Linked DNA regions of Homo sapiens. The protein of the gene in region 2 interacts with the protein of the main gene of each other region in a pairwise test. Each region holds a gene or a part of one and is shown on either strand. Other genes may lie near its edges.

Evidence for each region.
Region 1: the proteins of ZNF326 (region 2) and KPNA5 interact in binary tests that used the Homo sapiens proteins (3 or more experiments, as listed by UniProt).

The regions. Positions count from the first base shown.
Region 1 is NC_000006.12:116,726,211-116,729,710, reverse strand, and holds part of KPNA5 (importin subunit alpha-6), read right to left. Parts: intron 3,217-3,500; coding exon 3,089-3,216; intron 149-3,088; coding exon 1-148. UniProt on the Homo sapiens protein: Functions in nuclear protein import as an adapter protein for nuclear receptor KPNB1. Binds specifically and directly to substrates containing either a simple or bipartite NLS motif.
Region 2 is NC_000001.11:90,012,110-90,015,609, reverse strand, and holds part of ZNF326 (DBIRD complex subunit ZNF326), read right to left. Parts: intron 2,485-3,500; coding exon 2,373-2,484; intron 1-2,372. UniProt on the Homo sapiens protein: Core component of the DBIRD complex, a multiprotein complex that acts at the interface between core mRNP particles and RNA polymerase II (RNAPII) and integrates transcript elongation with the regulation of alternative splicing: the DBIRD complex affects local transcript elongation rates and alternative splicing of a large set of exons embedded in (A + T)-rich DNA regions.

The sequences.
Region 1 (3,500 bases), on a different chromosome or scaffold from region 2:
ATTAATGCCTATTCCATTCTGCTTAGATTCTTGTTCTCCAAGACGTAAAATATTTTCAAGTCCATTTAAAGCCACTTGGACTATTTTGGAGTCCATAACAGTCAAAAGATCACAAAGTGGTTTAATGCAGCCTAAAGCTACCAAATACCTTCAGATTAATATAAAAGAGAAGAAACAGGGAAAAAAAGATTTAAAAAGACTTAAGTACTGTTTGTAACAATGACACAAAAATATTTTTCATAGTGAAATGTTACATAAGCAATTAAGAAAAAGTATTCCTATACAAATGCAAACATTACACACATTTAAATTCTCACATAGGAAACTTAAAATTTTCTTTACTCACCTATTCTCTAATTTAACATAATTAGCAATAAATGGTCTTGCAAAGACTATAAAATACAGACACAAACTGGTACTTCGGCCTGTTTTTCATGGTGCTCATCTGAGCATTAAACGTAGGTTCGAAAGGTTGTTTTTTTTTTTTTTTAAAGGCAAGCCTACACACAGACACACACACACACACACACACACACACACACACACACACACGGAGGTCATATGGGGGTAGACAGAAATGGAAAGAAAGAAGAGACATCTAAATTAAACTTGAGAAAATTTCCCATAAAAACAATCACAGCTAATGTTCTGAAACATATACTGTGTTTCAGAAGGATAGAAGGCCTGTAGGAACAAAACAGGCTCTCTTGTGAATAATGTTCATAAATAATATTCACAAAAAAATTCTTTAATTTCTGAATGCATGTCCTTTTCTAGTTATTGGCTGGTTTTCTGTACTCTATAATGTAAATGAAGTAACTGATTTGTTCACTTGGCAAAAAGTCCATATTAAGTACAAAGGTTAAAAACATACTATGAAGCCAGGCTGTGTGCCTTCAAGTCCCAATTCCACCCCTTATTAGTTGTGTGACCTTGAGCAATTACTCTGTGTCTCAGTTTCCCCATCTTAAAAATGGGAATAATAATAGTACCAACTTCAGAGAGTAGTTGTAAGAACACAATAGACATTTAATAAAAGTTTCTGTCCCTCTTAAAAAAAAAAGATGTATATACCTTCACCAGAGCACTCATTTGCCCTATACTGTACTGTAATTGGTCAAAAATATCTGTTGAATGAATAACTGCCTCATAGTTAAGAGATTACAGGAGATAAAATACATGAAAGTACCAGACACATTGCTGGTGCTCAATAACTGAAATGACTTACTTAGCACAATAACTGGCAATAGTAGGCACTCAACTAGTGGTATGGATGCATAACTTAATCTGAGATCAAGAGGTCTTTTCCCAAATATGCAAACTTAATGAAATGATAAAAGTGGTTAGAAAAATAATTATCTCAGTTTGGATACTTAATCCATACTAATAAATTAAAGCAATAATATACAGAATAGATATAACCACAAAAATTAATTGAAAAAATACAACTATTTGCAGGTGAACAAACTTGCAGCCCAAATAAAATAAAAGTAACATCAACATTAAAAAAATACAAAATAGAACAAAGGAAGGGTCTTCATTTATTACTGCTTGTATCCATGACACAAAGTGGAAATACTGATGAAAGCAAAGAGATAGAATAGAAAATAAAAGGCAGAGACAGATGCTAGCAATATACAGCTATACAAATTTGAGAGAGCAAGATAATACTACAAATGAAGGCAATAAAAGACGACAATTTCACAATAGGTAGATTTCAAAATTATGTGATTTATAAAATAGCACTGTAGTTTGACTTGTTTTATAAATTGAAAAATAAATCAAATATGCATTAGAAAATATTTTCTAAGAAGTCTAGTTTCATGGAGGGATCCTCCGAACAAGACGATTCTGTAGAAGCTTTTAGTAGAGGTGTAAGTGAAACTTTGCTATGGGAGATAAAAAAGAGTGAAAGTACATGATAAAAGATTCAGGAATCAATACTGATAATAAAAATTATGATGATTACAAATAATAACAGTAGCTATTCTTAATTATCTATTAGTTATTAATAATATGTTTAGGCACTGTGCTGACACTTCAAAGACATAAATTTCACTTAACTATCAAGATACAGTCCCTCGGTTTCATCGGAGATTGGTTCCAAGACACCCTTCCTCTCAATACCAAAATCCACAGATGCTCAATTCCTTTATATAAAATGGCATAGTATTTGCATACAACCTATGCATATCTTTCCAAGTATTTGAAATTATCTTTAGATTACTTATAATACCTAAAACAATGTAATTGCTATGATGTTACTAATTGTTGTATTGTGTTTTTAAATTTGCATTATTTTGTAGTGTTGTACTGGCATTTTTTACTGTCTTTTTCTTTTTTAATATTTTTGACCTGCAGGTGGTTGAATCCACAGATGCAAAACCCAAGGATATGGAAGGCTGACTTACACTGCCATAACTATTCATTACTGGAACTCATTTTTTAAAATGAAGAAACTAGATTAGAGGGGTTAAATGACTTTGTCAAGACCACACAACTTTTACTGAAGGAGCAGGATTTGAAATCAGGCTGACTTAAAAGCCCATGCACCTATTATTTACATTGTCAGCAGAATAAATAAATTTAAAAAGCCTAGACTCAAAAAGCTAATATAAAAAAAAGGTAACTAGTATAGAAAAATAAAAGATACTATCCATAGGCAAGGCTAACAATCAATGAGGACCAGAACATCACCATATAAACAATGTCTATTTCAATTTTATTTAAAGTAAGTGGATATTCAAATTTATTAGCCATTTCTATATAATAAAGCTATATTTTTGTGATTAAAAAATATTTAATGCCCATGACAGTGTACTCTGCAAATTAACATAGACCGTTCCCGTTTGGATTTTTTAATCTCTGATTTTTCTTAAGCAGCCTATCAAGGAGAATGATGTTAATTACACGTTAAATGGGGAAAAAAAAATTGTGAATGAGTAACTGATATAATACATGCTGTCATTTCATATTATCAAACTGACTTAGAAATAATATTTTAGTTCCATCAGTAAATTAAAATATGTTTTATTTCAACTTTTGTCTCATTTACATGTAAAAAACAATTAAGAAGTTTATATCATACCTTATTTGCTCTGGAGTACCTCCTGATGTTGCATTAGTTATAGCCCAAGCTGCTTCTTTTCTGGTACGAAACTCTGCTTTCTGAAGAATCTCAATCAAAACAGGAAAAATATTTGCATCTATAACAGCCTGAGAGGGGGAAAAATATATAATCAGTACAAATACTGTTTCTAAAATATTACCAGTAAAAAAAATCTTGAAACTCAATGGCTTCAAAATGTCAAGGTTTTTGGAACCTTGACATTAAAATAAATTTTTAATTTCTATTCTGTCAGCAAACTTTTCAAATATTTTTCTTTTTACATAGGAAATTAGCTTTTTAAAGACTGGAGAATAGCAAAATATAAATTTTAGAGATGATAAAGCACAAGCCATGTGACTGATCAAAATGGATAAGTAATCACTGACACAAG
Region 2 (3,500 bases):
CTCCCAAGCTCAAGCTATCCTCCTACCTCAGCCTCCCAAGTGGCTGGGACCACAGGCACGTGCCACCACACCTGGCTAATTTTTGTATTTTTTGTAGAAATGAGGTTTCACCATGTTGCCCAAGCTGGTTTTGAACTCCTAGGCTCAAGCAATCCGCCTGCCTTGGCCTCCCAAGGTACTGGAATTACAGGCATGAGCTACCATGCTTGGTCTCCTATACCCTTATTTAGAAGTTATATCTCATGAGACTACATTGTACTCCTGGTATCCTTCACCATACACTATTATTTATGTACATCTCTCACACATCCATCTCTTTCTCCCTAGGTTCCCTTAAGGGTAGATATAAACCTTTCCATGTGCTTTATTATGTGGGAAGCATTCAAATATCCAAGGGAAGGAACCTATCACAAGAATAGTGATTTACTCAATCTCGAATCCTCATAACTCAAAGTAAAACTGCTCTGATAAATGAAAATAACTTAGACTACTTTAAATAAATTATATCCTAAAATGATAATTTATGAGTTAACATTCTTTTGGTTATATCATCAGATTTATATTTAGAGTTACAGAGAAAATAGCTAAATGAAAGTTCAATTCTTTCATTTTCTCTATATCACAATTTTATATATTATATTAACATGAACATAATCCATATCTAAAATTTTTCATGAGAAAAGTACTCATAGGGCAATTAAATTTAAAAAATTGCATCTTATAATGTAAAATGATTTTTACACTCCAAGACGCTGATAATTTAAAGTCATTTCTACACCAAAATATTAACTATGCCTGTTACTTCTACCAAAAGAAGGAATCACAAGAGATAATGAATGGGACAGAGAACTCACAAGGACTAAAAATAGCAGTAGTTCTTGAAACTAGAACTACTCTTCTTTTTATGGATTGTTTTGTTTTGTTTAGAGATGAGGTCTTGCCACGTTGCCCAGGCTGGCCTCAAAATTCTGGGCTCAAGGCTTTAAGAAAAATTTAGACATTTTTAAAAAACTGCTAAATTGCTAATAGTTATAATATACTGTCACCAACAAATTTTAAGCGTCCTTTGACCATTCCTTAATTAGCAAATCAAATTTCTCCTTAGTAATAAAATGGCATACTATTATTTAAATTTTTAGTTTAATGAAATTACTGTTAAGTTTAAACAATTTCCTTAAAATTATTACTAGCTGTTTTTTGTTTCCTCATCATATTAAACAGCTTAGTTTTCTTACTTTTTAAAATAATTTGGGTGATGTTTTAATCTAACTTGGACATTAATCATTTCTCATGTTTATATTTTCCAAGTCTGTTTGCACTCCTTTCAAATTTTAAGTTTTTATTTAGCCAAATCTGCTCATAATTTCCTTTGTAATTTATTCTATAACTTTTAAGCCTGGGAAAAAAATCTCCTTGCAGAACATTTTGTTTTTCTGTAATTTCATTTTTTTTTTACTACATTCATTCCAGGTGTCATATGAGGAGGCTCTAAACTGATTTTTGTTGTTATTTCATTGTTCAACCAATTCCCCTCTTTTTTTTTTTGAGACAGAGTCTCGCTCTGTTGCCCAGGCTGGAGTGCAGTGGCTCAATCTCATCTCACTGCAAGCTCCGACTCCCGGGTTCACGCCATCGTCCCGCCTCAGCCTCCCGAGTAGCTGGGACTACAGGCACCCACCACACCTGGCTAATTTTTTTTTGTATTTTTTTAGTAGAGACGGGGTTTCACCGTGTTAGCCAGGATGGTCTTGATCTCCTGACCTCGTGATCTGCCCGCCTCGGCCTCCCAAAGTGCTGGGATTACAGGCATGAGCCACTGTGCCTAGCCCAATTCCCCTCTTATTTCTAATATCCTCTTTATTAAATATTACATTCTTCCTTACAGTCTGTTCACAGGCTAATCTGGTATAATAATTAGCTTTGTGTATTACCACATATTTTTAACTATTATAGCTTTTTAATGATTGATTATCTATAAAAGCCAGTACCTACTCATTTACTCTTCTTCAGAATTTCCTTTGGGATCTGGATTGGAAAGAACTTACATATTTGTAATATTTAATTCCTGCCCATGAAAATCACTATGACTCCATACAGTCAAATCTCAATGACAAGTGTTTCTTTTTAAGAATACTGTTATTTCTGAATATTTGATATCTTTTGGATTGCCAATATGAATAGAATGCCTTTTTTCTTATGTTTTCTAAGTAGTGATTACATATAAATATCAAAAACCAAAAGCATTCCTCTGTATCTTTGAACAAGTCTTTTCATTTGAATCTTAAGAACTTTTTAATATTACAATTGATGTGTTGGCTTTTTCTAGGAAATCATTTTTTAATGAACCTAATTTTCTGACTCTAAGTACAAACCTGTATCCATCTCCGTATTTCTCACTGTTTTTTTCTCTTCTGCGCCTTTGTTTCTCTCGCCGAGCCTCAATTCGCCGCTTTTCTTCCTCTTCATTTTTAGGATCAGTTTTTGCTAGGATATTACACAAAAAAGTAAAAGCTAAAATTCATTTTTCCATTCTCTCTTTCCAATCATCAGTTCGTAAAGTACATACTTATGAGGTATACTTAGTGATTGTAATCTAAAATTGAACTCACCAAAAAAATCGGAGTTTGAGACTATCCAGTATTTCTGAAACTTCACTAAATGAACTTCATTCATTTGAATACCATCATCATGAATTCTGTCATATCTGCTTGTCATCTATGTGATTATTTGCTACATATTTTTCTTTAAATGTGCTCATTTGTCCTATCCTTATTCTAAGCAATAATATCCTTATCACCTAAAATCATCTTGGGCATCACATACTTTGGGAAAAACACTAAAGTAACCTGACCGAGCATGAAAATGGAAGTCCAGTAAACACTGCAGAGCCCTGGATGCAAGAACTCATGTTCATATTGTAGGAGCTCTCAGAAAGTTTCTTAAAATTTGTAACCTCCAAAATAAAAGCAAATTTGTTCTCTTTTTTAAAAAATATTCTCTATTGTGATAAAATACACAAAACATAAGATTTACTAGTTTAACCATTTTAAAATGTGCAATTCAATGGCATTAAGTACATTCACAAAGTTACGCAACCATCTCCACTATCTAGTTACAGAACTGTTCATCATCCCATAAAGCAGTCACTCCCCATTTCAACCCTACCCTAAGGCCCTGGTAACCACTAATCTGCTTTCTGATCTACGGATTTGCCTATTCTAAGTATTTCATATACCTAGAATCATCCTGTCTGTTGCCTTTTTGGTCTGACTTTTATTTAGCATGTTTTCACAGTTCACCCATGTTGTACCATGTATTAGTAAGTACTTCCTTTTTTATGGTTTAATAATATTCCATTGTATGAATAACCCACATTTTTTAAACCATTCTTCTGTTGATGTATATTTCAATTGTTTCTACCTTTTGGCAATTATGAATAATGCTACTATAAACATTCATATATAAATTTTTGTTTGGACCAGGCACAGTGGCTCATGCCT